Linked DNA regions of Homo sapiens: region 1 is linked to region 2. Evidence: fine-mapped expression QTL. A gene starts in region 2. The other region holds a variant in brackets. All regions are shown on one strand. Distances are between the middles of the regions.

The links. PIP is the estimated chance that this variant, and not a neighbour inherited with it, causes the effect.
Region 1: its variant is the best candidate, but not a certain one, in a credible set for the expression of FUNDC2 in prefrontal cortex (CommonMind, PIP 0.60).

The regions. Positions count from the first base shown.
Region 1 is chrX:155,048,857-155,065,663 of GRCh38, reverse strand. FUNDC2 (FUN14 domain containing 2) reads right to left here. Exons shown (of 5, transcript NM_023934.4): 4 at 13,863-13,994; 5 at 5,360-11,069. The coding sequence ends at 10,992. CMC4 (C-X9-C motif containing 4) reads left to right here. Exons shown (of 3, transcript NM_001018024.3): 2 at 1,631-1,698; 3 at 3,673-4,042. The coding sequence starts at 1,641. The coding sequence ends at 3,821. MTCP1 (mature T cell proliferation 1) reads left to right here. Exons shown (of 5, transcript NM_001018025.4): 3 at 1-45; 4 at 127-178; 5 at 265-1,630. The coding sequence ends at 174. Among named protein-coding and RNA genes, the nearest start is that of CMC4, 14 kb to the left of the region's middle. RefSeq lists enhancers at 7,936-8,230, 7,895-8,396. The variant AT/T (reference allele first, on the strand shown) is at 9,140.
Region 2 is chrX:155,022,767-155,039,463 of GRCh38, reverse strand. FUNDC2 (FUN14 domain containing 2) reads right to left here and starts at 12,620. Exons shown (of 5, transcript NM_023934.4): 1 at 12,393-12,620; 2 at 5,911-6,061. The coding sequence starts at 12,525. RefSeq lists an enhancer at 11,039-11,942 and silencers at 12,120-12,439, 12,710-12,799.

The sequences.
Region 1 (16,807 bases), 26 kb before region 2:
ATGGATAACAACTCTCGCTTGTGGCAGATACAGCATCATTTAATGGTACACATGTTGCTTAATTATTTTCCATTGTACTGGGACTCTCGTAACAGAGTACTCCATAAACTTTTCTTTTTCTGACAGGTCAGGGGAGTACAGGAGCTGTTGCTTAAGCTTTTGCCTGATGACTAACCTGGTATGTATTTCTATTTCTCCTCTGTCCTCCCCCTCTTTGTTTTGGCTCTATTCAGTTGTGGTGATTTTAATGATTTTTTTTTCCAGGTGCTGGGATTCTACGAAGATATGCTCCTTTGTTCTGTTCAGTATTTGGCAATCACTTCATCCACTACTGCAGTGCACCCACCCTTGGGCCTGGGGGGAGGGAGTGGGTTGAAAAACTGCTCAAGAAACAGAAGTTTAGCAAGGGTCATGAAGAATACTGCAAGTGAAACTGCAGAGAGAGGTTACGTAGGCAGAAAGCAAGTCAACAAAAGCACTTAGTCAGGATCCGTAACTTGAAATTGACTCCTTTGGAAATTGCCATAGAACCCTTAATGGACATCATCGGCTGGACCTGGGATCTGATGAATCCCACAAAAGTCAGCACCTTCTACAGAACAGATGCCCTGATCACCAAGGACTTGGTACTGATTTAGAGAGAAGAGAGCAGCTCCTAGCAGCATCAACATCTATTTGTCGCTTATTTGCCCTGCAGCAATTCACCTGCCTTTCCTTCTCCCATCCTGTAAATATCCTAGGTTTTGCTCCAGTGTTTCCCATCCCAGTACTGACCTAATTTGGATCTGCTGAGTATTTAGAGGGCTCTGAAAAGAGATATGCATTGATGAAATTAGCTACAAAGGCTTGTGGGCCTTTTTTTCTATCTGAAATCGTGTCTTCAAATTACTGGAAGTTGCTGATCAAAATTGTGGGCTCTTGAATTCATTCTCTGATTACAGATATTTTAAATAAGCTGGTTTCTATAAGAACTTCAAGAAAAACCATTTTAGCTGCTTAACTGGCACCTTTCTCAGGAAGTAATAACACCAAATATTGCTGATTCCTAGGAAAACATTTACTACTTGTAAAGAATTTCCTGAGTTAAAGTAGTTATAACAGTTTATATACATTAAAAGTAAGGTTTTACTTTAAAAAAAAAAGTCTTGGGAATAATAGCTACCATGTATTGGAGTCCTTTCCAGGCACTATTGTATGTACTTTATATACTTTATCACATTTAATCCTCCTGTCAATGCTTTGAGGTAGGTATGATTCCCATTTTATATATGAGTAATAAAAAAAGCTCAAGGAGTTTAATCATTTATCAAGGGTTTCTTCTGCGAATGATAGAGCCAGGCTGCGCCGTCGGCTCCTCTAGCCTAACGTTGGTTTACAGTATTCAAAAAGAGTTGATTGAATTCAAGGTTTTTTTTCCATGTAAAGCTATTTATATCTTCCAAGCCTAATGAAATGGATATTATAAAAATACAGTTGATTCATCCTATGTTTGGGAAGAGTATTTTTAGTGTAATTATTTTCCAGCAATTGTAAGGGCATATACTGCTTGTCTCAGAAGAAAATTCCACGTAGAGGGGCTTTAAAGTCTTTATGGAAAAAAGAAAAATAAAAATCATTTTTCTTGTTTTAGTTTTCTGGATATGCCGCAGAAGGATCCGTGCCAGAAGCAAGCCTGTGAGATACAGAAATGTTTACAAGGTAGTATATTGTAAAATGCTTTAAAAATATTTTTCCACTGTGAACTAACTATAAGAGACCAATTATTCTTTTATCTGTATTAACTCTTTTTTAAGAATGTAACGTATATGTAATTATCCTGAAGATTCTCTTCATTGTATCATCAAAGATGCAGAAAATAAAAAGTAATGTGATCAAAGCTAGGGGTTTTCACTCCAGGTGATTAGCATCACCTGGAGATCTTTAAACACTTACCTAGAACAATTCAGACTTCCTAGGGCTAGGGCTAGGAAAAAAAGGGTTTTTTGTTGTTGTTGTTTGTTTTTACTAAAAGGCTAGTTTTAAATTGGTTGGTTATACTTCACTGCAGCTGACAATTCACTTTTTAAAAGCAATCTGGAAGAGGTGCGGTTGAAATAACAATTGGAATTCAGGCTGCCAAAGTCATCAACTAACTCTTAAAGGCAGAAGTGAATCTCGACTAAAGCATATTTGAGGTGATTTGTCCATTTGTCCAGCTGCTAAGTTTGACCAAATGTTAGAGGATTTTAGTTTTCTAATCAGTGAATGACTGTTGCCAGAAGAGCAAATAGAAAAAGCTATAAGGCTATCTGAATTTGAAAAAATTTTAATAAGTTTTCCTCACTAGTAAAGTAATAGATGGAGATGGAAGGTCATGAAAATATAGAAAGGTATGAAGGAAAAATGTTCAGAGTTCCCCCAAAGATTCACCACCAAAGAAATCCTTTGTTTGTGTATCTCCTTGGACTTTTAGCTTTCATTCTTGGACTTTTCATTTTTTGATGTTAGCAATATTTTATAAAATCTTTTAGATTAAAATCTGGATGTATAATAATGCCATTTTAGTCAAACTTCTTCCCTCCAACTTTAAGGAAAAGGAAAAAGTTTTTTGCATTTAATTCCTTCTCCCAAATAAAACCTTACCTTGTTTGAAATAACCCATAGCTAAGGGAAAAAAATAAGTTAAAAAGAGCTGGTGACACCCCCTTGGCAGTGTGGGAGGATTAAGAACTGGAAAGACTAAAAGATGACAAGCACCGTTATAAGGACTTTATACGTATTAAGCCTTTCATCCATGAGGTAGATGCTACTATGACCCCCATTTCATAAAGGGGAAAACAGACACACAAGTTATGTAATTTGACTAGGGTCACATAGCTAGTAAGAGGTATGGTGGGAATTTGAACACCCCCCGCCAACCCCGCCCTTGGTCTAGCTCCAAATCTGGACTGTTACCCACCTTGCTATACTGCCTTTCTAATCAGAATTGTCTTTCCTATCCTGAGCTAACTACCATGTACTCCATTTTAGTACTGGGGGACTCATTAACTGCAGCTGACCTAGAGTCTTTAGGTCAGGTCCTCCTTAACTTAGTGTTTATGTATAGTAGGGATCTGCAAATGTTTTATGAAAAAGGCCAAACAAGTAATATTTTAGGCTTTGGAGGCCAAAGGCCTTTGTTGTATATATTGTGTATGTGTTGTGTGTTTACAACCCTTTAAAAATTAAAATCCATTTTTAGCTCCCAGCTGTAAAAACCGGCTGAATTTGACCCTAAGGCTGCAGTTTGCCAATTCCTGATGCACAGCCTTAGTAGGGGAGGTCCAACAATCAGCTTAAACTGTATGCAAAATAATGTGTGGTGTATGTGCATTTTCCTAATTCATCAAATTAGTGACCAGTAATAAAAATGATGTTAAAAACCAATGTCCTAGAAAAAGGTGCATACATGCTATTAACCTTAAAGGAAATTATATATTAAAATAGCTTTCAACCACTTTGTAAATCATACTTTCCCTAACGAACCTGTCGACAGGTCTCTAAATTAGAAAGAATTCAGTGGACTTTGGTATATCTTCTTTCTTCCAGTTCCATAGGTACTGAAAGTGAAAAGGGGTGGGAAGCACTGATCTAAACCTCCCTGTACCTTAGTCCTATGAGATCATGACTAGAGTCTGCCTGTATGTTTTTCAGCCAACAGCTACATGGAATCAAAGTGTCAGGCTGTCATCCAAGAACTGCGTAAGTGTTGTGCTCAGTATCCCAAGGGAAGATCTGTCGTCTGTTCAGGATTTGAAAAAGAAGAGGAAGAAAACCTAACACGGAAGTCTGCATCAAAGTAAAGTTCTTCTGAAGTGCTGCTCCATGTTTCCACCAAATGAATTTTTTTTATCCTCCTGACTCTTCAGGCCAGGTAGCAGCAAATAGCAAATGAAAAAGTCAGCTACAAAAGTTAATGAATATGCCATCTATGCAGAACAGGCAGAAATATAAACACATTAAAAGACAAATATGTAGAATGTAATATACTGAGCTGCTAAAATAAACCTGTTTAAGAGAAAAATTTGGGTTTTGTACTAAATGTATTTTAAGACTATTAGATATAGGGTATTAATGAATTCTCTTGAAGTTCAAGCCACTAGTGCCATTCATCAAATTTAAGTCATATGAGGTATGTTAGGTGAAAGGACTCACTTCCAGCATCACAATTTTGACGCCCTTTTTTTTTTTTTTTTTTTTTTTTTTGAGATGGAGTCTCACTCTGTCATCCAGGCTACAGTGCAATGGTGCGATCTCGGCCCACCGCAACCTCTGCCTGCCGGGTTCAAGCAATTCTGCCTCAGCCTCCCAAGTAGCTGGGATTATAGGCATGCACCACCACGCCTGGCTAATTTTTGTGTTCTTAGTAGACGGGGTTTCACCATGTTGGTCAGGCTGGTCTTGAACTCCTGACCTCGTGATCTGCCCGCCTCGGCCTCCCAAAGTGCTGGGATTACAGGCGTGAGCCAATTTTGATACCTTTTATAGATTACATGCTAAACTAATTCAAAGTTTCCTTTAAACTAACTCATTACCTTTTGTACTTCCAAAAATGCAGAGCAAAAAGTGTCTTTCCAGATGCCAGTAAGAGCATTTCTTTCTGCTTTTGCATCCCCACTGCAGCGACTAACCAGGTAGGAAAGGCATAGAAATGATTCTTGTAATGCTTAATGATCCTTAATTTATCATGAAGGAACTGAAGAAAAAATTTTCATTGGAAGTCAGGTAGGCAGCAAGATAATTCAAACTTAGTTGGTTTATCTATTCTTTATATCCTGATAATAAAAACCTGTTACAGAGGATCCAGACAACATTAATACAAAGCTGCTGAATGAAGCCTGTTGACAGCTGTCAGTCACTTTATGAAGTAGGAGGAGGCAGCATGCAACAGGCCATTTGCTTTCCTCAAATGGATGCTTGAACCACCAAAGGCTGTCCTCTAAAAAAGAAAAAGATGACTAAAAGCAGGAACAATTTCTGCTAGGTCCCTGATGTTAAAATACCATGATTATTTGAGACCAACTGTTTTCTTTAAAGCAGCATTACTCAAAGTGTTTCTAGGAATTGCTGTAACCGGAAGAAAAAAAAAAGGCTTCTCTGGTCAGGTAAGTTTGGGGAATGCTAGGTTGCATACAAGTACACAGGTTAATTTCCTGTCAGACTTCAGAGCTTTCAAAAAACCTAAGTGAACCTGTTTTGCAGACAGCATCTCTGTGTGTGAATGCTCTCCAGAGCGACTTAAAGAAATGCTGCCTTAGAGACGTTTGGTCCACAAACCAGAGTGACAGAGCTAAATCCCCATGAAATTTAAATGACGTCTTGTGTTAATAATAACACAATAAAACATCATACAACTTTAATGTTACACCATCTACAAATCTAAATTACATTTAAAATTATCAGTTGACAGTTGTACTAGGATTTACATTAGGAATCACTACATGATCAAATAGATTGTTTTTCTGTGTTTTATTGCCAAGTTATTTTTACTGAGTTAACTACTCCAGTTTCAGACTCTTTTAAATGTTTTTATGCTAAAGTATATGTATTAGTCCATTGTTGCATTGCTATAAAAAGTGCCTGAGACTCGGTAATTTATAAATAAAAGAGGTTTAGTTGGCTCACAGTTCCATGGGCTGTACAGGAAGCATGGCACTGGTATCTGATGGGCTTCTGGGGACGCCTCAGGAAACTTACAGCCATGGCAGAAAGCAAAAGGGGAGTGAGCACTCCACATGGCCAAAGCAGGAGCAAGAGAGAGTGAGGGGTGAAGTGCCAGATCTCATGAGAACTCACTATCATGAGTGAAGTACCAAGAGGGGATGGCCCCCACGATCCAATCACCTCTCACCAGGATCCACCTCCATTAGGGAATACGGTTCAACATGACATTCGGTGGCTCCAAACTGTATCAGTATACGACTTTCTTTCAGTTTTGAAAGGTTCAAATCAGTTCCTTCTTTTAAAGGATTGTGTCAGTTTAAGTCAACAAATCCATTTGAAGACATTAATTTAACTCTTCTTATTCTTAGGTATTATTATGACATACAAAAAAATAAAATAGCCATCATAGAAGGCTTAACATTTACTGAGTGCTTCTTATTGTTAGGGACCAAGAGTAACACTGAATCTCAGTCTTAAGCAAAGAACTCTAGGAAGGTGAAAACTATGATCTCCCATTTTAGAAACCAAAAAAAAAAAAAAACTTTGTTAAGTTGGCTATTAGTGATGCTAAGTTTAATCACTTGGTTAGTGACTGACAGACCTTTTAGCTAGAAAGGTAGTTTTCCCTTCGTAATGGGTAAGTCATTTGTGGGGTGATATCTTGTCACTCCTTTCCTTGCATTCACTCCACACGATTCCTAAGACATTTAATGAACTATAATATTACACTTGTGTTCAGTATTCAGAAGGCATCTGAAGTTGTATGGCACTTAATATAAAAGGCTTTAAAGCCCTCTTAAGGAGTTAACAGCAAAACTCTTAATTTTTTCAGCACCAGCTTCCAACTGTGTACTTCAGTGGTTCTCAGTCTCTGCTGCTCATTAGAAAAAGCTAAGACACTTTAAAACCTCAGGATGCCTGAACAGCACTCCAGACCAGTGAAATCAGAATCTCTAGGATGAGAGCCAGGCATTAGTAGTTTTTAAAATTTCACAGGTGATTCCCAAGTGCAAGCAAGGATGAAAGCCACTGCTCTCAGGAATGTCATTTCTTACCATTTTAAAATTTAAAAAGGTAGACACTTTTGAAAAGTCAGTAAACTGACTTTAAAGCTTTATAAAAATGTGAAAAAGTGCGACACTTTTCTTTTAAAAAAAAAAGTATTAAGATTCATGACCCCTTAAAAAGAATGCAAGCATCGGAAATATAAGCTATACCATATGACTTCTAGAAAAATCAGGCTCAGAACTAAAATAGGTTTTCTGCCCAATTACTCAGATGTTAGTGTGACCTCTTAGAAAATTGGGCAGAAAATGTATTTTAGTTCTGGGCCTGATTTCTGAGAAATCATACTAGATTTCATGACAAAGAAATGAAGCTGATAATTTGGTAGAGGGAGTAGAGGGCAGCAGCCACATTTTTCTCTGGGGTCCAAAACTGGCTGTGAGCTTCCCTCTGAGAAGAAATTGAGATCATCATGAAACATTGATGATACTCAGAAATTTCAAATCCATCAGTATACCATCTTTTCAAGCAGAGATTCCCAAACTGTACAAAAGTAGAGGTTCCAAATAAGAGCCCAACCATTAGTTATGCCCATCTTTCTGACAACCGTGAAACAAAAGAATGATGGAGAGACTATTCTTACCACAATAGTTGTTAACTACACAGTAACTTTGCTTTCCAAAACCAGAAGCACCCACCCCAAGAGCATGTTGGCTAGAATTATGCAAGAGATCATTCCTTGTAGAATCTAGTCCGCCAACTTGAATCGTCTTCTGCCAGCATCCATGAGACAGTAACTGCCCAGATCCAGTAGCAAGGACTGTCACCCCAGTGGTAGGGGAGTCAAGAACCCCACTGTCCTGTTAATGAATGTCTGGAGGCTGAGTGGCGGGAGATTGCAACAAACAAGCGGCCATTTGGGAGGAGAGTCATGCTAACATATTATCACAATGGCAATAACACTCATGACAATGGGCTGCTCAGGCAAGGGTCCCCACCACCACATCTCTCCCCGCACCCAGCTCCCGTGTCAGCAATGAGGATACACATTCTTGGGGGAGACTGAAACATTGGACTCCATCTGTTGAGCCCGAGCAGGCAGCGGCCAGAAAGTGCCCCTGGATCCGTCTCTGCTCTCCGACTCTGGGGAGAACCTTGGGAAGAAGAGACTCAAAAGTTCTACCTCTCCTGTAGCATGCTCCAAGTCCCCATCCCACCAGGTCCCATTGCGGGAGAGACGCTGGGTCAAAGGGTGGCTCAAAGTGGTGAGGACGCAGGGCCGACCCATAGTAGCCAGGAAGGGGACAGAAGGGGTCCCTGAGCCGGGACACTGTCCAGCACGCTGCAGGACAAGGGAAGGGAAGCCTTCACTACGTAGATGCCATCCTATTGGTTGACAAGTTGGAAGCCTTGAGTGCGGTGTTACCACGTCGCCGCCACAAGGGGGCGATGAAACCCCGAACACATTCCAAGTCAAGTTTCTGCGGACCATATACAGCGACAACGCTCTTCCCAAGGAAAAACTTCCGCCCCACCACCACTAATTAGGAAGTCCAGAGCGTCATTGGACTCTGCTACTGGAGAAAATACGTGCCTAGCTAAGCAGGCCTCTCCAGTCAAATGAAAGTAGTGCACTGAAAGGTGGAGCTGCCTGGTCCTTGAATCATCTCGGTTTTGCATGGAGGAGTGGCAGCTGTTCTTTTGGGGGAAACCTTAACTCCCACTTCACCACCTGAAACAAAACTGCTGGCACAATAGGGCCTTGATTCACAGGTAACCCCAAATGCCTGAGCCTCCTTCACCGATGGTTCAGCTAAACTGAAAACAAGGTGTGCAGCTGTGCGTGTTCAACCTCCATGCCAGCTCTGCACAATCCCAAGTGGTCACAGTGGCCTCACACCGTGGGCAGAACTCACAGCCGTTCTCATACTAGCAGGATGAGGCCAACCTGCAATACTGACCTCAACCATGACCCTCACAGTCGTAGAGGCAGCCAGCTGGGAAAAAACTTCAGGAGGGACCTACCTACAGATCTTAATTCAGACAATCAGAATACAGTCTGAGGCCAGACTATTTATTACAACCTACTCAAGGTAGTTTACAACCACCTGCTAATCTTTGCTGCCCTCACCAATAATCACAGGAAAAACAGATGCACCAAAAGACAACCCCTACCCCACTGGAGAGGCATTGGGTGGCCAGTCTCCCCACATGCAACCCAAAGGGGCACAGAGCACTTTGGTTAGCTTTGCTGTTACCATCCCATTGCTGTGGGTAAGTCACACAGGTAAAGTGGCTGCAGCCACTATCACCATATATGGCATAACCCAGAGACCCAGATGTCAGGAGAGGCAGAGTGTGGGGAAGCAGGAAACAGATGACTCAGTGTCACTACATATGTCTATATCAATATATATAGAGATATAAATATATAGCAAGCAAAAAAAAAAAA[AT/T]AGAGGAGGATCTATAAGGTTAAGAGACTTATCCAAATCATGCAAATACGATGTGAACCTTGCATGAATTTTGATTCAAACAAACTAAATATAAAACACTTGAGGAAATTTTGAACACTGATCAGATTTTGGATATTATGTAATTACTGTTAATGTCTGATATGATGAGGTATTTATGATTTTTAGAAATAATTCTTACCTTTTAGAGATACATACTGAAATATGATAAAATGACATTTTGATATTTGTTTCACAATAACTGGTAAAAACCAGCAGAGCTATAATTTGATGATTGTTGTGAGTGAGTGATAGATACACAGGGGGATTATTGTACTATATTCTCTACTTTTATATATTCCTGAAAGCGTCCATAATAAAAAGTGAAAAAAAATAAGTTCTTATAGCAAAATATGCAGCAAAGAGGCTCATACCATTATGGTTTTGAGATGATTCATACATATTGCAAGCAAAATGGCTTATGTTTCCTTAAATGTAAGGAGAAAAACGCAAATAGGTGGTTTCTGTAAAGTTCCACACATCCACTGGTAGTTTTGATTTTCAAATTCAATACATCATTCTCAAGACGGGTTAAAATGCAAACATTTTTAAATGTATGGCCTTAGAAACACACTCATATTTCACAAGAGATCATCTCCAAGATTAACAATTCTGAGTAAAACTAACCTTTAATAGTGAGTTTTCTTTCTATAAAGTCATTATTCAAATACTCAGCACCTATTAAGTGCTAGGCCCTGTGAGTATAATGGTGAAGACAGAAGTCTTGCCCTCTGAAAGCTGACTGATATTCTAGTAGGGACTGTAGACATGGTAACATGCCACTACAGCAAAATGTGGTAAGATTCTGTGTGTGCGTGTGTGCCCGTGTGTGTGTGTGTGTGTAAGCTTTTAAAGAATAATTCTCAGGGTTGTGGTCATCATGAGACGGTAGATTACACTTGATGGAAATTTATTTCTCATGTCCTATCACTATCTTTCTTAATTCTGAATCCCTGGAAAGCTACTTCTTTAAAATTCCGGTTTAAATGTTGTATTTCATACTAACTAGATTAAAAAAAAAAATAGTAGAAGTGGCACAGAGGAGTTATGGCCACCCCTAATGTTTTGATAAGGATATTTCATTCACATTTCAAAGCTTAAAACCTTTTCTACAAAATAAAAATCCAAAATCTTCCCTTTCCCACCTAAATCACTTGTTTTACAATAAATAAACCCTTTGGAAACAGCCATGAGATACATTATCCTGTACGGTAGAAAGCATTCCTGGACAATATCAGATTTTTCAATTACAGTAATTATGCTGCCAATTTTGTCGGCATAATTATAACACATTTAAATAGCTTTCTGTAATGTAAAACCAACTAAAAAAGAAAGTAGACACCAAGATACCAAAATCTTTCATGCTTAAAGGCAAATGTATTCAGTTCCTTTCCATGCAGCACACAATAAGGTTATCTATGTGCTTATTTCTTTTCCAAATCAACAGTTTGGGACAACCTTTCAGGATCCACTCATCCTCCACGGTCAGCCATCTTGTAATGTGTTCTCATAAGTGTCTTGCATGGGGGTAAAGGAACCTTCTTGTTGGCCTACAGACTGGCCAAGTAGGGGGTGTACTGGGAGGAGAGCTAAGGACTATTGTCTCTTCTGCCACCATGAAGCTCATGGTGCCACATTGACTTGTACCAGCAGATGCTTAGAGAAGCCACTCAGATTTGCCATGGCAGGGAAGAAGGCATGGGAGAAGAGGAGGAGGGACTCGATGTCCTATGATGGAGTGTAGAGGCTGCTGGCTGGAAAAAACCAGGAACAATGAACATGAGGTCATCTTCCTTAGGATGCCATGCCAAGCAGAAAGCCTCCGAAAAATCCCCCAGTTACTAGAACATTCTTCTTCACAAATGACACCACCTGAAAACAGAAGATAGTACAATGGGTTGTTTTGCTAAGGATGTTAATAATATTAAGAATCATCTCTATTATACCTATGCCAGTCTTAACAATGTCAATCCCCTCATCGGTTACGTAATTTGCACTTTACCCAAAGGGCAATGGACTTACACTAATAGTCTATTTAATAATAATTAAATAGACTTACATATGAAAATGACTACTGGCTGGTGTGGGGAGAATAAGACTAGAGGGAGCCTGATGGGAAGGAGGATGCACATCAGGAGGTAGAGACAATGGCTCTTTGAATCAAGGACAAAGAAGGAGAGTTCATGGGGACAGTTATGGCGAAAGAGTAAAGCTGCACTAAATAAACTGGTTACAGAGGCAATTCTGTTTCCAATTTTGCTCCTTCCATCCTCTTTGGCATCTACCCTCCAATAGAGGCTTCTCATTTCCTGAAGTCTCTCCCCTAAATCTCTCCATCCATGCATTCCCCCCTGAAACCTGCTCCCAGGTAGATGCTATAAATTCTCATTCTCACACTTCACCACATCTAAGATGATTAACAGGTGACGTTCTTATTTCCTTAAGTTCCCAAAGCTTCCCACCTCCCCTCTACCCTCCTGGAATAGCTCCCGGTCATCTGAGACTCAGTGCATACATTCAGACACTCTTTATGGCTCCTTAGTCTGTGCTCTACCAATCTCCTGACCACTCCCCACCCTTCCAATTTCAGAGACAATTTTGATAAGTGGCTCAGACTTCCTCTTTCTCCTAAGTGTGATCACCACCTTAGAAAGTGTTCATATGAACAAGACATCCAACATCCTGGCCTGATCATTTCTTGAACTCAAGTACGGTGACTTCCATCCCCAAACCACCTAAGCTACTCACACCCTGACATTCCCCTAACATTTTTCACACTACCAACCCCATCCTCCTAGGACCACTGTCTTCTAACCCTCCAGTAAGCCCTTACTCCAACGATGCCTATGTCTTCCTGCCTCATTTCCACTCCTCCTCCATCTCTCCTGGACCTCTACATTTCCTTAAATGAAGCACTTTTGTCATCTGCCATTGGGGTGAAGAAAAAAAATCATACAACTTCCTGAGAAAATTGGTTTCGTTTATTATTTTTACTACTCTTTCTTCAACTTGCTAATTTGGCTTTCAACTCCACCACCCCACCAAACTGTTCTCACTGAAGTCATCTTGTTGGTAAATACTGAACTAAATCTTCATCCTGTTTCTCAAATCAGACCACCGGCTCTATGAGTAGGAAAACCAGCCACTACATCCCCAGGGCCTGTGACAGTGAACTCAATTCCAAATTATCTGGTTACTTTATAACAAACTCCCTCTGTGAGTCAACAGTTGGTTCTAATCAAATATTAACTTTATGCTTTTTATTATATACACTTCCAGTATTATTTTTAAAGTTTTCAGCAAGGTGCCATGGCTCACACCTGTAATGCCAGCACTTTGGGAGGCCGAGGTGGGAATACTGCTTGAGCCCAGAAGTTTGAGACCAGCCAGGACAACACAGGGAGACCCTGTCTCTCCAAAAAATTTAAAACTTCACCGGGTGTGGTGGTACACACCTATAGACCCAGCTACTCAGAAGGCTGAGGTCAGAGGATCGCTTGGTTGAGGCAACAGTGAGCCATGACTGTGCCACTGCACTCCAGCCTGGGCAACAGAGTGAGACCTCTCTTACAAAATTTTTTTTTACTCACTGTGGTGAGTCACTGTGCCCAGCCATGCATTATTTTTATAAACATTTGAATAATAAAGTTTTCATGAAATAAAAAATGTAACTTTCCTAACTTTGAGGAGAGACAGAAGGAAGAAAGGAAAGAGAAACTATCTGGGCTCTGGGCTCCTGTAGATACCCATCTCTGCCACCTTCCCACTCTGGGTAAAGGCACCAGCTTTGACCAGCCACTTGCCAATCACCAGCACGAAGAGCCACTCACAACATGAGAAGCCTGAGGCGCACACAGGGTATTTCTCCTCCCCTGCACTCAATCTGTCTGTTTTCCCTGTGAGGCTAGAGTGAGCTAATGGGAGAATCTCTCATCACTCCAGGCTACAGAAAGTACCAGCTATCTTCTTGACACCCTGATCCTTGTTTATTTCTCCCCAGTTCAGTGTACTTATTTATTTGCAACATCTGACATATTTCTAAAGGTAATAAAGCAGCAGCAAAAAATATCCTTTTAAAAAGGAAGGACTTCTCCTGTCCCTGCAGTGCCAGGTCATAATCTAACTTGGCTTTAATGAACAAGATCAGGGGTTAGCAAACTACAGCCCATGGGCCAAATCCAATCTGAACCTGTTTTTAAATAAAGTTTTATTGCAACACAGCCACATCCACTTATTTAACATATCATCTATGGCTATTTTGATGATATACAGTGGAGTTGAATACTTGTGACATTTCCACTAGTTATATGCAGAACAAGCAGAGTATGAATGTTTCAGAGATATGCGTGTATAGCGACAAAATGGGACTCAAAATAATTATACTGGCCATATATCCTTCCCACCTACTATGCTGCCCCACATTCCTACAAGAACTGGTTAAAGGGATAATCACTCCACAAATGTGCACAGACAAAGGTCACCAAACAATTATCCAGCTTTTAAAAATGTTCTGAAGTGATGATAATCCAAGTTAGTTTTGTCTCATTACTCTAAGTTCTTTGTAATGCTTAAGCCCTGTCCATCACTGAGATATGGTACAATAGGGTTAAGCCCTGTTTTTGTCTGCACTGTTCACACACTACACGTGAACAATGCAAGTCTCACCTCCTCAGCTTTGCTCCTGACCTCAGTAGGTATCTGATTGCTCTTACGGATCTTCAGCTGCTCTTTGGCTTTCTTCATGTCCTTCTCCACTCGTTGCCAGTCAACTTTGATGTACCCAGTATGGTTTGCAAGCTACAGTATCAACAATAATGACAACAAGAAATGAGAAACAGATTTGTTATTTCTTTTAGTCAGGATAAATCCTGAAGTAGACTCTCGAAACCCTCTGACTTTCCATTTTTGGAGACATCTGCCATTTGATTCTTTGTATCATGATGACATCTACTCAGCATCCCCCCTATATGCGAAGCCATATGCCTGGCACTAGAAATAACTACTGGCAATTCTTTTAAATTATTTATACTCTTACAACCCTTTTACAAAGAGTTACATAAGATGAAAATCAAGGTGGGGGGTCAAGATGTAGGGTGAAGAGATGGACCTTACAGCCAATACAAATGTTTCCAGAGAATGACTCTGACAATGTGCCCATGAGTGTCAGTTTCCTGACAATGTGAACAGAGCAAAGCATTCAGGCAGTTATTACTGTTGCTTAACAGGAAGAAATCTAGCATCTGGCCCCACAGAGATTTCTCATGAGCAAGTTCATATAAACGGATATTAAGAGAACCACATCCAAAGACACCTACAGCATATACCTATTTCCCTTGATAAAAACAGCAGGCACAAACACTAAAACTCAGTGTAAATCTGATTCAAGCATGTAGATTTTGATGATGGATTAATATCATCCTAGGAATGAAGAGAATGACTGTAGCCAATCAATCAATGCCCTATCAATATCACTTCTCTCTACCAAATTTTTGGCAATCTCAAAATATCTGAAACTAAAAGTCTTCACCTTGCTAGAGTCTCCTCCTGCATTGTTGCTCTTCCTCTAGGCCCTATTTTAGCTAATGGCACCACCAGTCACCCAAACAGACTAGAGAAAATACTTGTGATGTGTATCATAAACAAAACATTGATACTCAAAAAAGTGAACTTCTTATAGAGATCAGTAAGAAAGTTCACTTTAAAAATGGGTAAGGGCAATTCAGAGGAAAGTGTCCACAAAAAGGAAAAAGTTCAACTTCACAAGTAATCAAGCCATAGTACCTTTATTTATGAGTCTATAACTGGAAATACACAAAAGTCTATCAACACATGAATGGATAAACAAATTGTATCATATTTACACAATAGAATATTACTTAGTACTAAAAAGAACAAATTACTTACAGCAACCACATAGTTGAGTATCAACATTTGTATCTAAAAGAAGGCTCTGGTTCATTTACTCCACCCTGTTTATCCCACAAAATCCTGCTATTAAACTGAGAGAATACATGGACTAGCTATTTGAAGGCTCTTACATAAAAACAGCGACGTGCAGATTGGAGAAGACCAGAATTCAAAGCACCACCAAACTGGTGGCGTGTTTCCTGCTTTTCCTGCAGTATCGCCTGGCCTAACCTCAAGGCAGGACTCAAGAAACATCTGACAAAATTCAACGCAAATTCATGATAAAACTCTCAGAGAAAGAGCAATAGAGGGGAACTTCCTCAACTTGATAAAGAACATCTACATAAAAAACCCTGCAGCTAACACTGTACAGAATGGTGAAAGAACGAATGCAGGGAACAAGGCAAAGCTGTCCGCCGTCTCCACTCCTATTAAATATCGTACCAGAAGTGAATTCAGAGTCAGCACAACAAGGCAAGAAAAAGAATTAGGAGGCATCCTGATTCACAAGGAAGAGGTCAAACTGTCTCCAATCATAGACATCTTTGTCTACATAGAAAATTTCATAGACTTCAACAAAAAACAAAAACTCCTAGACTAAAAAAGTGAGTTTAGCAGGGTCACAGGACACAAATTCACACAAAACCAACTGAATTTCTATATGCTAGCAATTTGAACTGGAAATGAAAAATGTTTAAATGATTTACAACAATGGGTGCAAAAAATAATTAAATATTAGGTACAAATCAAATAAAACATACAGGATCTGTATACTGAGAACTACAAAATGCTGAAGAAAGAACTCAAAGACAACCTAAATAAATGGAGAGACACATCATGTACATGGAATGGAATACTCAACACAGAAATGATGCCCAGTTCTCTCCAAATTATCCATAGATTTACTGCAATCCCAAATCACAAATCCCAGTAGGATTTCTTATAGATACATAAATAAGCCGGTTCTAAGATTTATATGGAAAGGCAAAGGAACTGGAATCACCAAAATGAATCTGAAAAAGAACAGAGTTGGGGAAATCACACTACCTGATTTAAGATTTACTATAATGCTACAGTAGTCAAGACAGTGTGTCATACTGAAGAAGAGATAGACACACAGACCAACAGAACAGAATAAAAAGTACAGAAACGGACGTGGACAACTACAACAAACTGATTTTTCACAAGGGGGCAAAAGTAGTAATGGTGGTGGTGAAGTCCCCTGGGTGGCCCAGGCCAGGATTGCGAGGTGACTTCCTGCTCTCCTTGGCATTACTGGGGGACTGCACTGCAGGGGCAAAGCAACACCAGAACTGGGAAAAGCAGCCTCTCCCGCTGCAAGGTCCCTCCAGCGCCCTCTACTGACAAAGCTCAACATCCTACTTCCATTGCAGCACAACAAGTAGAGGGAGCCGAATAAACTGAAAACTGGCAAGCGTTGCTGCTGGGCTCTGAAAGCTGCAAAAAGTGCTGGAAATGATCTACAGCTTGGTAAGAAAAAGCAACTACATTCATAAAGACGTGAAGGAAAAATTTCACTGTTCACAGATGGCATAAAAAGATTTTATAGACAAAACCCAAAAGAATCCCAGACAAGACTTTTTTAACAAGGTGGCTGGCTGAAAGAGCAACATAAAATATCAACTGTATTTCAACACACTAGCATGAATCAGAATGTGTAGTTTTAAAAATCGTATCATCCA
Region 2 (16,697 bases):
GAAGAAAACAGGGAGAAAGCTCCATGACACTGGTCTGCACAAATATTTTTTGGATATGACCCGAAAAGCAGAGGCAACAAAAGGCAAAAATAGACAAATGGGATTACATCAAACTAAAAAGCTTCTGTACAGCAAAGGAATCAACAGAGTGAAGAGACAACCTAAAGAATGGGAGAAAATATTTGCAAAGCATATATCTGATAAGAGATTAATATAAAAGATATACAAGGGATTAAACAACTCAATTGTAAAAATACAACCTGATTTAAAAATGGGCAAAGGACCTGAATAGACATTTCTCAAAAGAAGACATACAAACATACAAATGGCCAATAAATAAGGTATATGAAAAAAATGCTCAACATCACTAATCATGAGGAAAATGCAAACCACAATGAGCTATCACCTCACACCTGTTAGGATGGCTATCATCAAAAAGACAAGAGATAACAAGTGTTGGTGAGGATGTAGAGAAAAGGAAATCTTTGTACACTGTTGGTAGGAATGTAAATTAGTAGAGCCATTATGGAAAACTGTATGGAGACTCCTCAATAAATTAAAAATAGTAGAACTAATAACATATGATTCAGCAATCACACTACTGGGTATACAGCCAAAGGATATGAAGTCAGTACATTAAAGAGGTATCTGCATTCCCGTGTTCACTGCAACTATTCACAATATCCAAGATAGAGACAACTTAAGTGTCCATCAACAGATGGATAATGAAAATGTGGTATATTACATAATGGAATACTGTTCAACCCTTAAAAAGGAAATCTTGATATTTGTGACAACATGGATTAACCTGTAGGACATTATGCTATGTAAAATAAGTCAGGCACAGAAAGACAAATACCAAATGGTCTCACTTATATGTGGAATCTAAAAAAAGTCAAATTCATAGAAACAGAGAATGGTGGTGACCAAAGGTTGTGGGGTGGGGCGGTTGGGGAAATGTTGGTCAAGGACACAAAAATTCCAGTTAGGAGGAAGAAGTTTAGGATATCTACTGTATATCATGGTGACTACAGTTAATAACAACATATTATATATTTGAAAATTGCTATAAGAGTAGGTTTTAAGTGTTCTCACCACAAAAACATGGTAAGTATGTGAGGTAATACATGTTAAATAGCTTGATTTAGCCATTCCAGAATGTATACATATATCAAAACATCATGTACGCCACAAATAAATACAATTTTGGTGTTGCTGTTTTGTTTCCTTTTTGAGACTGGGTCTCATTCTGTCACCCATGCTGGATGGAGTACAGTGGCATGATCTTGGCTCACTACAACCTCCCCCTCCCAGGTTCAAGCCATCCTCCCACCTCAGCCTCCCAAGTAGCTGGGACTACAGGCGCATACCACCACGCCCGGCTAATTTTTCTATTTTTTGTAGAGATGGGGTTTCGCCATGCTGCCCAGGCTGGTCTCAAACTCCTGAGCTCAAATGATCCACCTGCCTCGGCCTCCCAAAGTGCTGGTATTAAAGGTGTGAGCCACTGCACCCAGCCTACAATTTTTACTAGTCAATTAAAAGAATTTTAAAAATAAACTTAAATGTAAATAGTCTAACCACCCTAATTTAAAGGAAGAGACTGTCAAATTGGATTCTAAAAAATTAACAACCACCTATATGGAACCTACAAGAAACCTACTTTACATGTAAAGACTCAGCTGGGTGTGGTGGCTCACGCCTATAATCCCAGCACTTTGGAAGGCTGAGGCAGGCAGATCATTTGAGGTCAGGAGTTTGAGACCAGCCTGGACAATATGGTGAAACCCTGACTCTACTAAAAATACAAAAATTAGCCCGGTGTGATGGTTCACGCCTGTAGTCCTAGCTACTTGGGAGGCTGAGGCGAGAGAATTGCTTGAACCTGGGAGGCAGAGGTTGCAATAAGCCAAGATCACACCACTGCACTCTAGCCTGGGTGAGAGAGCGAGACTATGTCTCAAAAAAAATAAATAAATATAAATATAAAGACTCCACAATACCCTATTCCATGTGCCTCTTCCCTTGGCTGAGTTAATCTGTATCATTTTCTGTTAAAAAAATAAAAAATAAAAAAATAACCCTGAGTGGAACAGCTCTGAGTTCTGTGAATTCTCCTAGAGAACTATCAAACATGACAGTGGTCTTGGGGACCCCTGAACTCTGCAACTAGTAAGTGGCTTTTAGCAAGACTACAATATACAAGATCAATATACAAAGAAAACTATTGCATTTCTATATACTATACAAGCAATGAACAATGGCAACTTGAAATTTTGAAAGTAATACCATTTATAATGGTATCAAAAATATGAAATACTTAGGAATAAATCTGATATAAGATGTGTAAGATCTACAAAGCATTGCTGAGAGAAATTAAAGAAAACCTAAACAAATTGGAGAGATACACCAATGTTTATGGATCAATGCAATCCCAGTCAAAATCTCATCGGGTGTCTGGCAGAAACTGGCAGCAACCTAATTCTAAAATTCATATGGAGGAGTGTATAAAAACAAGATAAAATTCAGATGGAAATGCTAAATACCTAGAATACTCAAAATAGCTTTGATGAAAAACAAAATTTCAAGACTTGCATTACCTAAGTTACAGTAATCAAAACAGCATGATAATGGCACCTAGATCAATTTGGCAGTACAAAGAGCTCAAAAACATATAGTCAACTGATTTTCAACATAGGTGTAAAGACAATTCAGTGGAGAAAAAGACAGTCTTTTTTTTACAAATGTGGGGACAACTAGATACCCATACGCAAAAAAAACTTGGATTCCTACCTTATACTATATACAAAAAGTAAATCAAAATGGATCACAGAACTAAATATAAAATCCGAACCTATATACAATCTAGAAAAAGCGAGAGAAAATCTTGGTGACCCTGGATTAGGCAAATATTCTCAGACATGACACCAAAAGCTGGAGCTACAAAAGAGCTGCACTTCAAGATTAAGAACTTCTGCTCTTTGAAAGGTACAGTTCAGATAATGAAAAGCTACAGAGAAGTAATATATTTGCAAATCACATATCTAAGACTTCTATCCAGAATATTTAAAGAACTCTCACGATTCAGCAGTGAAAGAAAACCAACAACCCAATAAAAATATGTGGAAAAAGATTTGAACAAATAAGTCATCAAAGATATATGAATGGCAAAAAATAAGCCCGTGAAAATGCTCAACATCATTAGTCATTAGAGAAACGCAAATTCAAACCACAATGAGATACAACTTCATACCCACTAAGATGTTCGTAATCAAAAAGATAATACCAAGTGTTAGTAAGGATGCAGAGGAACTGGAACCCTCACACATTGCTGGTGGAGATGTAAGATGGTACAGGCACTTTAAAAACTGGCAGGTACTTGTAAATTTAGAACATTCACTTACTACGTGACTCAGCCATACTATTCCTAGATATTTACCCAAAAGAAATGAAAGCATATGTTCATACAAAGACTTGTACACTTGTATACAAACTTGAAGTTTTATCTGTAACAGCTAAAAAGTGAAAAAAAAACTCAAATGTCCATCAAAGGTGGATGGAGAAACAGATTGTGGTACATCCATACAATGGAGTACTACTTAGCAATAAAAAGGAATGAACTGTTGATAAACAGAAAAGCACAGATTATCTCAAAATTATTATGGTGAAGGCTGATGCAGGAGAACTGCTTGAACCCAGGAGGCGGTGAGCCAAGATCGTGCCACTGCACTCCAGTCTGGGCAACAGAGCAAGACTCCGTCTCAAAACAAAAAAATATATTATTATGGTGAATAAGAGAAGCCAGACAAAAAAGAATATATACTATGTAATTCCACTTCTAAAAAGAATCTAGAAAACATAATCTATAGTAATAGAAAGCAGATCAGTGGCGGGAGGATGGCATGAAGGAAAGAGCGTGGAATTACAAAGAGGTACAAAGCAGCTTTTGAAGTGATAGGTATGTTCATTATCTTGACTGTGGTGATGGTTTTATGGGCATGTACATATGTAAAAATGTATCAAATTTTATACTTTAAATATGTGCAACTTATAATATACCTATTTATTAAATTTAAAAACTAAGAGATAAAGAAAATAGCCAAGATGTTCCTAAAGAACAAGATAGCAGACACACACATATGCATGCGCACACACACTCACATAAAGCAGCGGGGAAAGGGATAGCTTTCACAATAAATTAAGTTGGGACAAATGGGTATTCCACATGGGGAAGAAAAGAAGGAATCTACCACATACTGAGCACAATAACAATTCCAGGTGGATAATAAATCTAAATGTGAAAGGTCAAATAATAAAAGTTCTGAAACATGGGGTAGGCAAAGATTACTTAAATAAGCCACAAAAATCACTAACCATTAAGGTTAAGATTGATAAAATTGACTATATTAAAAATAAGATCTTCAGTTCATCAAAAGATACCATAAAACGAAAAGATAACCACAGAATGAGTGAAAATATCTATAATACACACAACTAACAAAGGACTGAGAATATTCAGAATATATAAAGAACTCTTACAGCTTAACAAGGGAAAGAATGACAACTTCAGAGGAAAAAAACTAGAGTGGAACTGAAAGAGGAGATCCAAATGGTCAACAAACATACGTAAAAGTCGATCAATGTCACTCCTACTCAGGGAAATGTAAATGAAGCCACCATGAAATACTACTACCTAACTACCAGACTGGTAAAATTTTTATAGTCTGGATTTAACTTGATTACCTCGCTAAGGAAAAATTAACTAATTTTTTAAAAATTTAATAGCCTGGCAAAATCAAGTGCCACCATGTAGAACAACAGGTTCATTTGGTCCTTGCTGGGACTGTAAACTGTTAAAAACAGTTTTGGAAGGTGGTTTGACATTATTTAGTGAAGCTGAAGATACCTATACCCATTACCTAGCAATTTCTAGGTACAGACCCTACAGAAATGTATGCACATATACACTGGGAAATCTAATACTCATATAAGCATAGTATTAGCCAAAAATGGAAACAACTCCAATATCAGTCATCAACTGGATATACTGTGGTATATTCACATAATGGAACTCAAAATACAAGTGAAAGTGAAGAAACTACAACTATACACAATGTAGTTGAATATATGAAACATCAGGTTGAGCGAAAAAAGCAAGACTCAAAAGAATACATACTGATTGCATTTACTTTAAGGTGGAAAGCAGGTAAACCACAGTATGTTATTTAGTGACATAACTGGTGTTAAAACTACAAAGAAAAGCAATGAAATAACTGCTTAATAACCTCTCGAGTTTCTAGGGCGCTAGCCACGTTTTTTTTAACCTTAGCAGTTGTTACATAGGTGTTCACTCCAAGTATTTGCTAAAATGTACACCTGTTAAATGTGCTGTTCTATATTTGCTATATGGTGCTATAAAATTTTTCAAATGTAAAGAGTCTATGAGATTAATGGATTCAATATTCACCTATGAAATTTGCTATTACTTTTTGAATTTATTACAAATGAAACCATAAGCTGTGTCACATTAAGTTATCATCTGACATAGCTAATAAGTAGTTAGCTCCTTATTCTACCAGTTACCAGCTATGTGGCCTTGGGCAAACTAACCTTTCTGAGCCTCAGTTTCTATAAAATGAGGATAGAAAATAACAGTACTAATTCCAGAGTTGTGAGAAGGAAATGAGATATCTATGTAAATACTTCAAACAGAACCTGGCATATAGGAAACAATCATTATGTGTAACCATTAAATGGTACTTTAAGATGATGTTTAGATACATGCTCCACATTAAGTGACCAATTTCACAGAAGCCAATGTGTTTTCACTGGTTAAAGGAGATGATGGTACCTATAACTGCAATACTAAATCATGCACAAAAGACAGTGGACATCTTTCACATCACTTACCATCCAGTGACACCTCCAATGAACAGCTGGGTTGCCACGCTATACTTTTCTGCTGAAGGTCCAGATTCCTGCCCGAACAGCTTACGCCACCATGGCTGCTTCTTAGCAAATTCCGCAAGGTCCAGTGACTCAAAATTTCCCTCAAAGTTTCCTACAAGAAGTAATACGTTAAATAAGAAAATATTTACTTTTATACCTAACTAGATTGAGATATTTAAAGAAACAGACATAAATGTAATAAGAAACCTCCAAATATTCTATTTTAAATAGTAAATTTATTCTAAGTTGCAATTTTGGAAAATCAGACTAAAATCAGCAAATACTAATGTCTATATTACAGGGAAAAACCTAGAAAATCTCAAATTAGTCCTCTAGTTTGTCCTCTCAAATTTAAAAATAACAAAAAAGGCTGGGCGCGGTGGCTCACGCCTGTAATCCCAGCACTTTGGGAGGCCGAGGTGGGCGAATCACCTGAGGTCAGGAGATCGAAACCAGTCTGGCCAAAATGGCAAAACCCCATCTCTACTACAAATACAAAAATTAGCCAGGCGTGGTGGCAGGCACCTGTAATCCCAGCTACTCAGGAGGCTAAGGCAAAAGAATTGCTTGAACCCAGGAAGCAAAGGTTGCAGTGAGCCGAGATAGTGCCGCTGCACTCCAGCCTGGGCAACAGAGCAAGACTCCATCTCAAATAAATAAATAAATCCAAAAAGACCTATAAAAAACTGCCAGTAATGCATCCCAAATGAAACAAATTTGCCCCTTCTCTTCAGAAGTAGCTCAATGCTATTCAGTAATCCACAAATTTTCTAAGTACTACGTGGATCTCCAGTGATAATGAAGATGAGAGGGTAATGTTTAATTGAGCTCTTACTATTTACCAGGCAATGTGCTAAACATTAATCATGTACATCTAATTAATCCACAGAATAAGGTAGGTACTACTTATTAACTCAATTTTATAATTAAGAAATGAAGGCCAGGCATGGTGGCTCACACCTGTAATCCCAGCACTTTGGGAGGCCGGAGGCAGGTGGATCACCTGAGGTCGGGAGTTCAAGACCAACCTGACCAGCATGGAAAAACCCCATCTCTACTAAAAATACAAAATTAGCCGGGGGTGGTGGCACATGCCTGTAATCCTAGCTACTCGGGAGGAGAATCACTTGAACCTGAGGGGCAGAGGTTGCGGTGAGCCAAGATCGCACCACTGCACTCTAGCCTGCGCAACAAGAATGAGACTCCATCTCAAAAAAAAAAAAAAAAAAAAAAAGAAGGCACCAGGCGTGGTGGCTCACGCCTGTAATCCCAACACCTTGGGAGGCCAAGGTGGGCAGATCACCTGAGGTCAGGAGTTTGAGGCCAGCCTGGCCAACATGGTGAAACCTCGTCTCTACTAAAACTACAAAAATTAGCTGGGCATGGTGGCATGCGCCTGTAATCACAGCTACTTGGGAGGCTGAGGCAGGAGAATCACTGGAACCGGGGAGGTGGAGGTGGCAGTGAGCCGAGATCGCGCCACTTCACTCCAGCCTGGGCAACAAGAGTGAAACTCCGTCTCAGAAAAAAAAAAAAAATGAAATGAAGGTTCCAAAGTTAAATGATTTGCCCAAGCATGGAGAAAGACTTAACAAAATGTCAATCCCTTTCTCTGTGGGAAGATAATGTCAGGCTCCCCTACTATACCCAGCCCTGTTTCCCTGGAAACACACCGCACTAAGAAATGTCTGATATGAAATGTCAGCAATGTACTATTCAAAGCTGTTTACTGTAAAATTGACCTCAAATGATCAACTTCATCTGGCATGGAGTGTGTACAATCTTTTCACACATAATGTAACAAACAATAGAAAATGACTACTACCCATGCAAAGGCAAAGCCATATAAAGGAAACAAAATTTGTTTAAATAAAAGAAATAGAAGCAGGCCAGGCACGGTGGCTCACGCCTGTATCCCAGCACTTTGGAAAGCCTGGGGGACGGATCACTTGAAGTCTGGAGTTCAAGACCAGCCTGGCCAACATGGTGAAACCCTGTTTCTACTAAAAATACAAAAATTAGCTGGGCGTGGTGGCATGTGCCTGTAGTCCCAGCTACTCGGGAGGCTGGGACAGGAAAATCACTTGAACGCGGGTAGCGAAGGTTGCAGTGAGCCAAGGATCGCACCACTGCACTCCAGCATGGGTGACACAGCGAGACTCAGTCCCAAAAAGAAAAAAGAAAAAGAAACAGAAACAGAAACAGAACCAGTGATGATCAAGATGCTGAAGTAAGCAAATAACAATGATCAAAAACTGCTCAAAAGATTAAACATATATGTAATTGGAGTTCCAGAAGATTAGAAAGAATGGGATAGAAGTAATATTCAAAGAGGTACACAAAAGTTATTCAGGCCGACAAGAAATGATGCCACATGGAAATATGGAAATGCAGAAAGGAATGAGACACTGGAATGGGCAAATAGGTGGATAAATCTAAATGAATACTTACTGTAAAAAAATAATAATTACAGAAATTTTATACTTTAAAATCAAAGAAAAAAATCAGAATAAAAAGTAGAAAATAGGGGCTGGGCGTGGTGGCTCATGCCTATAATCCAAGCACTTTGGGAGGCCGAGGCGGGTGGATCACCTGAGGTCAGGAGTTCGAGACCAGCCTGGCCAACATGGTAAAACCCCGTCTCTACTAAAAATACCAAAAATTAGCCGGGCATAGTGGCAGGCGCCTGTAATCCCAGCTACTCAGGAGGCTGAGATGGGAGAATTGCTTGAACCTGGGAGGCGGAGGTTGCAGTGAGCCGAGATCAGACCACTGCCCATTTTCCTGGGCAACAAGAGCGAAACTCCATCTCAAAAAAAAAAAAAAAAAAAGTAGAAAATAGGAATAGAAAGGGATTTCTTCAATCTGATATAGGACATCTATGAAAAATATACAACTAACATCATACTTAATGGTGAAATATGGAACACTTTTCTTTCCCTAAAATCTATTCAACTGTTTTTTGTTTTGTTTTGAGACAGGGTCTCACTCTATCACCCACATTGGAGTGCAGTGGCACTATCACAGATTACTGCAACTTCAAACTTCTGGGCTCAAGCAATCCTCCCACCTCAGCCTCCCCAGTAGCTGGACTACAGCTGTGCACCACTATGACCAACTGATTTTTTTTTTTTTTTTTTTTTTTTTGTAGACAGGAGGTCTCACTTTGTTGCCTAGGCTGGTCTGGAACTCCTGGCCCCAAGTGATCCTCCCTCCTTAGCCTCCCAAAGTGCTGGGATTACAAGTGTGAGCCACCTCGCCCAGCACTGTACTGGAGTTCCTAGCCAGTGCAACAAAAGAAAAGAAATAAAAGTCAAAGAGATTAGAAAGGAGGTACAACAATAATTCTGTCTTCATTGGCAGATAATATAACGGTGTATATAGAAAACCCAGAAAAATCTACAAAAAGGTACCAGAAGCAAGGTCACACATTATAAGACCAATATTAAAAAGTCATTTGAATTTTTGTGTATTAGAAATGATGAATTGGAAAACAAAATAATTTTAATTGCAAAAATTATGTTGTAGTAAATTCAATGAAAGATGCACAAGACCTGTTCACTGTAAACTAGAAAACACTGCAAACTACAAAACACTGCCAAGAAATTGAAGATGACCTAAAATAACAGTGATATACTGTTTATGTTTTGCAAGACTCAATATTTTTAAGATGTTCATTCTCTCCATATATTGATCTATATATTCAATACAATCTCAATTAAAAAGTAGGTTTTTTCTTTTTTCTTTTTTTTTTTTTTTTTGAGATAGAGTTTTGCTCTTTTTGCCCAGGCTGGAGTGCAATGACAATCTCGGCTCACCACAACCTCCTCCTCCCAGGTTCAAGTGATTCTCCTGCCTCAGCCTCCCAAGTAGCTGGGATTACAGGCATGCACCACCACGCCTGGCTAATTTTTTGTATTTTTAGTAGAGACAGGGTTTCTCCATGTTGGTCAGGCTGATCTCAAACTCCCGACCTCAGGTGATCCGCCTGCCTCAGCCTCCCAAAGTGCTGGGATTACAGGAGTGAGCCACCACGCCCGGCAAAAAAGTAGGTTTTTATGTAATTGACAAACTGGTTCTAAAATTCATATGAAGATACAAAAAAACCCAGCAGTGTTCCAGTTACTTCGGCTGTACTACAAATTACTCCAAAACTTCATGAAGCAAAACAATCATATATTATGCTCTCAGATTTTGTGGATCAGGAATTCAGCCACAGCACTGTGGTTTGTCTTTGTTTCATGTCTGAGGCTTTAGCCAGAAGACTTACAGGCTGGGTCTGAAGACTCTACACTCACACAGATAGATAGGCTGCTACTCTATGTGAGTCAGTCTAGGCTTCCTTACAGCATAGGAGCTGAGTTCAGGAGGTGAAAGTCCCAAGAAAGGGAGAGAGCAAATGCAGTGTTAACTTCCACTGCATTCTGTAGGAACAGGCAGTCAGTCACAAACTCCCATCCAGATTCATGAAGAGGGAATATAGATCCCACCCCTGGGTGGGAGGAGTGTCAAAGTCACTAGGAAAAAGACCATAAGGAATGGAAAATATTGCTGCAATCAGGAAAATACAAACTGCCACAATAATCCTGGGGGCGGAGGCGGGCAAGGGAAAGAGGAGGGTTCAAGGAATTTCAAGGCTCATTATAAAGCTACAGTATAATATACAACTATCTTAATTTCAAGGCTTATAAAGCAATGACATTCAACACTGTCAAACTGACCCAAGGATACCCAAATATAGCAATGGAAGAGAATCCAGAATCCAGAAATAGATCCACACATATAGTCATTTGATTTTTAATAACTTAGCACCAAGGTAACTCAATGAAGGAAACAACAAATGATGTTAGAACTACTATATATTTGTGTTTCAAAAAAAACTACTCTCAACCTCTACCTTAAACCATACACAAAATATAATTCAAGAATTCATTCAGGATACATCACAGACGCCCATTTAGCAGAACAAAATATGGATGTCTGAGTACCTGGGTACTCCATGGCCTCTCAAGTAGTTAAATAATTTATTTTTCTAATGTAACAACAAAACATTACAGTTTTAACGTAATTTGACCAAGCCCCTTAGATCAACAGGTGGCTCCACTGGGGCTGCAGTGAGCTATGATTGTGCCACTGTGCTGTAGCCTGAATGACAGATCTAGTCCCTAAAAAAGGGAGTAGGGGGGAAGGTAGATTAAATGCGAGATATTTGGTCAGTCATTGGTCAAACACTGCTAAGCACTATGACAGACAAAAGTCAGCCAATAGCTTCGTTTATGAGCCCACAAAATCAATGATCACAGTTATTATGTGATCATCACTGTGATAACAATTGAAACTCATCTTAACCTCAAAATTTCTCACAACAATTTCCTAGGTGCAAATACCTGATCAACCTATAAGAGCAGTCTGCTCTTATAAAAGTCTATAAGAGCAGTCTGCTCTTATAAAAGTCTATAAGAGCAGTCTGCTCTGCAGGAAAATACATAATTATCACATTGCACATTCCACCTTCCCAGAGTCATCTAAAATTTAGCGGCGTGCTGGTGAAATGCTTAACAGTCGGCTTTAGGCAAGGGCTGATTTGTAGTGTAGCCAATTTCCATTGCGTATTCATTCATCGTGAGCATGACATTACTGAATTGTGAAACTACTGAACCCAGAGATGGGAAGAGACGCACAGTAGAGCACCATAGTATAGTATCTCCTCCACAAAGATACAATAGATGTATAAATAACCTCAAAAGTAAAGTAACAATAAAACATGGTAAATAATAAAAGTGATGAGTTTTTAGTATTTTCACTGCCTTTGTTTTTAACATAATTTACGTAATTTTACGTTTATATGATTGAGTTTTCAATGATGGCTCTGTTTAGCAATGGGATCCCGTGAGTCAGTACTAAATTAAATACAACCTAAACATTCAAAATAGGGTAAGACGCATAACTTAAAGACGTGCTCCACTGCGAATTACACGGAATCTTTGACTATGCCGACTAAACAGAAGGCTATTCCTAAGTACCATCCCATATGTGCTAGTTTTTCAAAACCAACAATAAAGCAGTTGGGGAGGTGCCTTGTACACAGAATGACGCCACGAGGCATTTGAGATGAACGTCCAAAGGGACAAAGAAGCCAGACCGCTTCCGAGAACGGGGACAGAATGTCTTCGGGCTTCTGCGCCGGGGGCGGCGCCGGAAGGCTGGGTGAGCTCCACTGGAGACGACACCCCAGGGTGGTTAGGCCCCAGACACGCGCGTGACCTTGGCCGGACCCTGGGAGCGGCTGAGCCAGGGGCGATCCCCGAGCGCCCTCCCCGTCCCCGCGCCGCTTGGACTCCCCGGGGAGCTCGGTCGCGACTGGCGGGCGCGGAGCCCTTCCCCTTCCGGAGCCCAGGAAGGCGGCTCCCCGCGGCGCCGGCCGCGCGCGCGCCCGCCCTTACCTTGACTGGACGCGGCCATTTCGGTGAGCTTGTCTCGCGAGGACACACGTAGAGGATCTGCGCGGTAGGCCGCGGAGTGGCGCGCAGTTGTCGCCACCACTTGGCTTCCGGCACGTGGGGCAGATGTTTCCATTCCCACGGCGGCAGCGGAAGAGGGAGGGCCGGGCGCGCCGCGGCTGCTTGCAGTCTCCGCAAGCGGCTACATCACAGAGCTCAGCGTGCGGTGTCACAGGCCCCGCGGTCCCGCCCAACAGATGCACCGAGATGCGCGTGCGCAGAAAGCGTCCCGGGGGTGAGGCTCCCTCCCTCGCTCTCCCTCTACTCCCGCCCCACTCTCCCCCACTTTCCCCCCTCCACCCACCGCGGCCGTCGGGGCTCGCTCGCTCAGTACCTGGAGGCGAGTTCCTGACGCGACTGCGACTCAATCCTCGCCTGGTGAAGAATATTTTACCTATGACTCACTGAAAATAAAGACGGCTGAGTGACCGTGTTTGTTCATGTAAACATTGAACAAATATTTATCGGCTTCTGCGATGTGTCCTACTCTTTTAGTGGAGGAAGACACATTTTATTTATGTATTTAATTTTTCTTTTGAATTTTACATGCGAGTTATACTTAATAAAACTCACTTCAAAATATACCTTCAACAGAAAATCCAGCAACAGTTTCTATTATGTTAGTTAAAACAGCCAGTCTTTTCCTTTACTTTTAAAAATTATTCATAAATGTAATTAGTGAATGATAATAAACATTGACATCTGATCCACTGCTTTAGGAGTGACACAAATGAAGTTAACTCAGGCTATTTTCTTTATAATCATTGTGCTATTGTTTTCTTTTTCTTTTCAATTATACTGCTTAATATAGGATTTTGTGGCACCATAGGAGTTGAGTAAAAATAAAAGGAATAAAAATATACCTTATCTGGCCGGGCGCGGTGGCTCACGCCTGTAATTTCAGCAGTTTCGGAGGCCGAGGCGGGCGGATCACGCGGTCAGGAGATCGAGGCCATCCTGGCTAACATGGTGAAACCCCGTCTCTACTAAAAATACAAAAAATTAGCCGGGCATGGTGGCGGCCGCCTGTAGTCCCAGCTACTCGGGAGGCTGAGGCAGGAGAATGGCGTGAACCCGGGAGGCGGAGCTTGCAGTGAGCCGAGATCGCGACACTGCACTCCAGCCTGGGCGACAGAGTGAGACTGCGTCTCCAAAAAAAAAAGAAAAAATACGTTATCTATGAAGATTTCCAATTTGATTTCTATTTATCACAAATGGCCACAGTACTCCTTTGTACTTTACCACATACCATATTGTATTCAGTAATTATTTGTGAATATGTAATTGATAATATTGTAGGTTTTAGAGAATCCTTGAAAACATGAAAATTTGGTAATGGGGTCTATTTTGATTATTTATTTATTTATTTATTTATTTTATTTTTGAGACAGAGTCTCGCTCTTGTTGCCCAGGCTGGAGTGCAGTGGCGCGATCTCGGCTCACTGCAAGCTCCACCTCCCGGGTTCAAGCGATTCTCCTGCCTCAGCCTCCCAAGTAGCTGGGACTACAGGCACGTGCCACCATGCCCGGCTAATTTTTTGTATTTTTAGTAGAGGAGGAGTTTCATCTTGTTAGCTAGGATGGTCTAGATCTCCTGACCTCGTGATCTGCCCGCCTCAGCCTCCCAAAGTGCTGGGATTACAGGTGTGAGCCACCGTGCCCGGCCATATTTTGATTTAAAATTTAGCAATAATAGATAAAATTTTCAATCAACTAAGCCCTTGGGCCAGGGAATGCTATTCCTTAAAAAGTGCTTCTATCAATATAGCCTCTGACTCATTACTTTGTTAATTTTTAAATTGTATTTCATTCCTGATTAACATTCCCACCCAGATTATTAATTATACAATCTGTTAACTGTAGAACCTCAAACATGTTGGATTGTACTGTATTTGTCTGGAAGACACATTTTTAAAACATTGTAATCGCTATAAGAGAAGCACTGGGAAAGAAAGGAGCTTCTATGCCTGCAGTGCCTGAGGAGCCCTTTAACAGTGTGCCCCGCCCCTAAGCTACTCATGCAGTCATCCCCATCCCAGTTAGTCAACTTTATTCCAAAAAACTTGGTGTTCCAAATTTTTCCTTCTCAAAGCCCACAGATCCAAAATTCATCAGCAGTTCCCACAAACGTTACCCTCACAATGAATCCAGCCATTTTTCACCCTCTCCAGTGGTACCATCATAGCCCAAGCCGCCACCATTTCTCACCCCCGGTTAACAGGCCACCCTCCTTCTACCCTTATCCTGCTAGAGTTTGTTTTATCTACAGTGATCAGAAAGATCAGCCTAAAAGATAATTCTGATCACCACCCTCCTCTACTCACAACCCGGCCGTGTCTCCCCATTGCCCTCAGTGTAGAAGTCAATGTCCCTTTGCTGAAATGCAACCTTAGTGAAACTTTCCATGACTAACCTCCTTTAAAATTGCAACCTGGTCCACCCTTACTCCCCCTTACCCCACTTCTCTTTTTTGCACAGCACTTATTTTACCTTCTAACATACTGTATAATGTACTCATGTATTGTAATTATTGCTTATCATCCCTCTTTCAGTTGCTTATATTTTTCATCAATGTGTACCCAGTGCCTAGGACAATATCTGTCTAGGACAAATGGGTAGTTATGTGGCTGTAGGCAAGCCATTTAACCTCTCTGTACCTCAGTTACTTTATCTGTATCCACTTTGCGGTGTTGTCATGAGGATTAAATCAGATAGCCTATGTGTAGCACCTGGCAGTGAATTTATCACCCTGTACTGTAACTGTCTACTTTTCTGTCTCCTCCATTGGACTGTCATTCCCAGGGGGTTGGGAACTGGGATTTCTTCATTTCTGAGGCATAGAAGTATAGCATAGTGGTTAGGAGCATGACTTCTGGAGCCAGAGTACATGGGTTTGAATGCTACCACTCACAAGCTGTGTGGCCATGGAGAAGTTGCCTAACCTCTCCGTGCTTCAGTTTCATCACCCATAAAATGAAGGTAAGAATAGTACCTGTATTTAAAAGCACCTAGAACAGTTCCTGGCATATAGTGTCAGCTGTCATCTCTGCATCCTTGTACCTGTCAGAGAGGAGTGTTTATCAAAGGGGCTTCTTGCTGCCTGTTTCCAAACCAGTCGACAATATACCAATTGCTCCCTAACACATTCTTGTTTGTGCAGAACTGAGCTCAATGATAACATTTTTATAGCAACCCTGATCAAGTTTCTTCTCATAATCTCTTACACTTTGAGGCCCCTGCAGGGGCCCTCACTCTCCCTAATAAACATTAACCTGAGTAGGGTGTTTGAGCTCACCATGGCTACATTCTGATGTAAAGAGATATATCCTATACCTGGGCCAAATGTAAACAGCCTGGAAAAGTGTTAGGTTAAAAACAAAACAAAATAAATAAATGAATAAATGCCAGGTGGTTATGAGTGCTATTGAGAAAAATGAAGCCAAGAGGGATATCAGTGATGCAGGTGGGGGTAAAGAGCTTACAACATAAATGTGGTGTTCCATATTTAAACCTCATTCAACAGGGAAGATTGGAGCTGAAATGTGAAGGAGTTGTGGGAGTGGAACTACGTGGAAATCTGGGGGAAAGGTGTTTTGGGTAAAAGAAATAGCAAGTGTTGAGGTCCAGGGGCATGAGTGTGCTTGATATTTTAGGGAAGAGTAAGGAGACCAGTATAACCAGAGTGAGATGAGACTACAGAGGTCAGGAGAAAGGGCATGCAGACCATGTGGGATGCTCTAGGACCTAGGCCATGGTAAAGATGTAGGGTTTTACCCTGATGGAGGTCAGAAGCCATTGGAGGATTCTGAGAAGAGGAGTGACAGGACTCGCTTTATAGTTTTAAATTATAACTATAAATTATAGTTTTTAAAACAATAGTTGCCTAACCTCATGTTATATGTAAAACTACAGTTTTAAAAACTATAAATTCCTCATACTGGCAGCAGTGTGAGGGGCAAGGGCAAAAGCAGAGAGACTAACAGGTTGCTGGTTACTCTTGCTAGTGCAAGTGAATTCTAGAATCTTCGACAACATCCAGAACTTCTCTTGCTGCTGCCACTCAGGAAGAGGGTTGGAGTAGGCTAGGAATAGGAGCACAAATTAAAGCTCCTGTTCACTTTGACTTCTCCATCCCTCTCCTCCTTTCCTTAAAGGTTCTGATTAAAGCAGACTTATGCCCCTACTGCTCTCAGAAGTGAATGGGTTAAGTTTAGCAGCCTCCCTTTTGCTACTTCAGTTCTTCCTGTG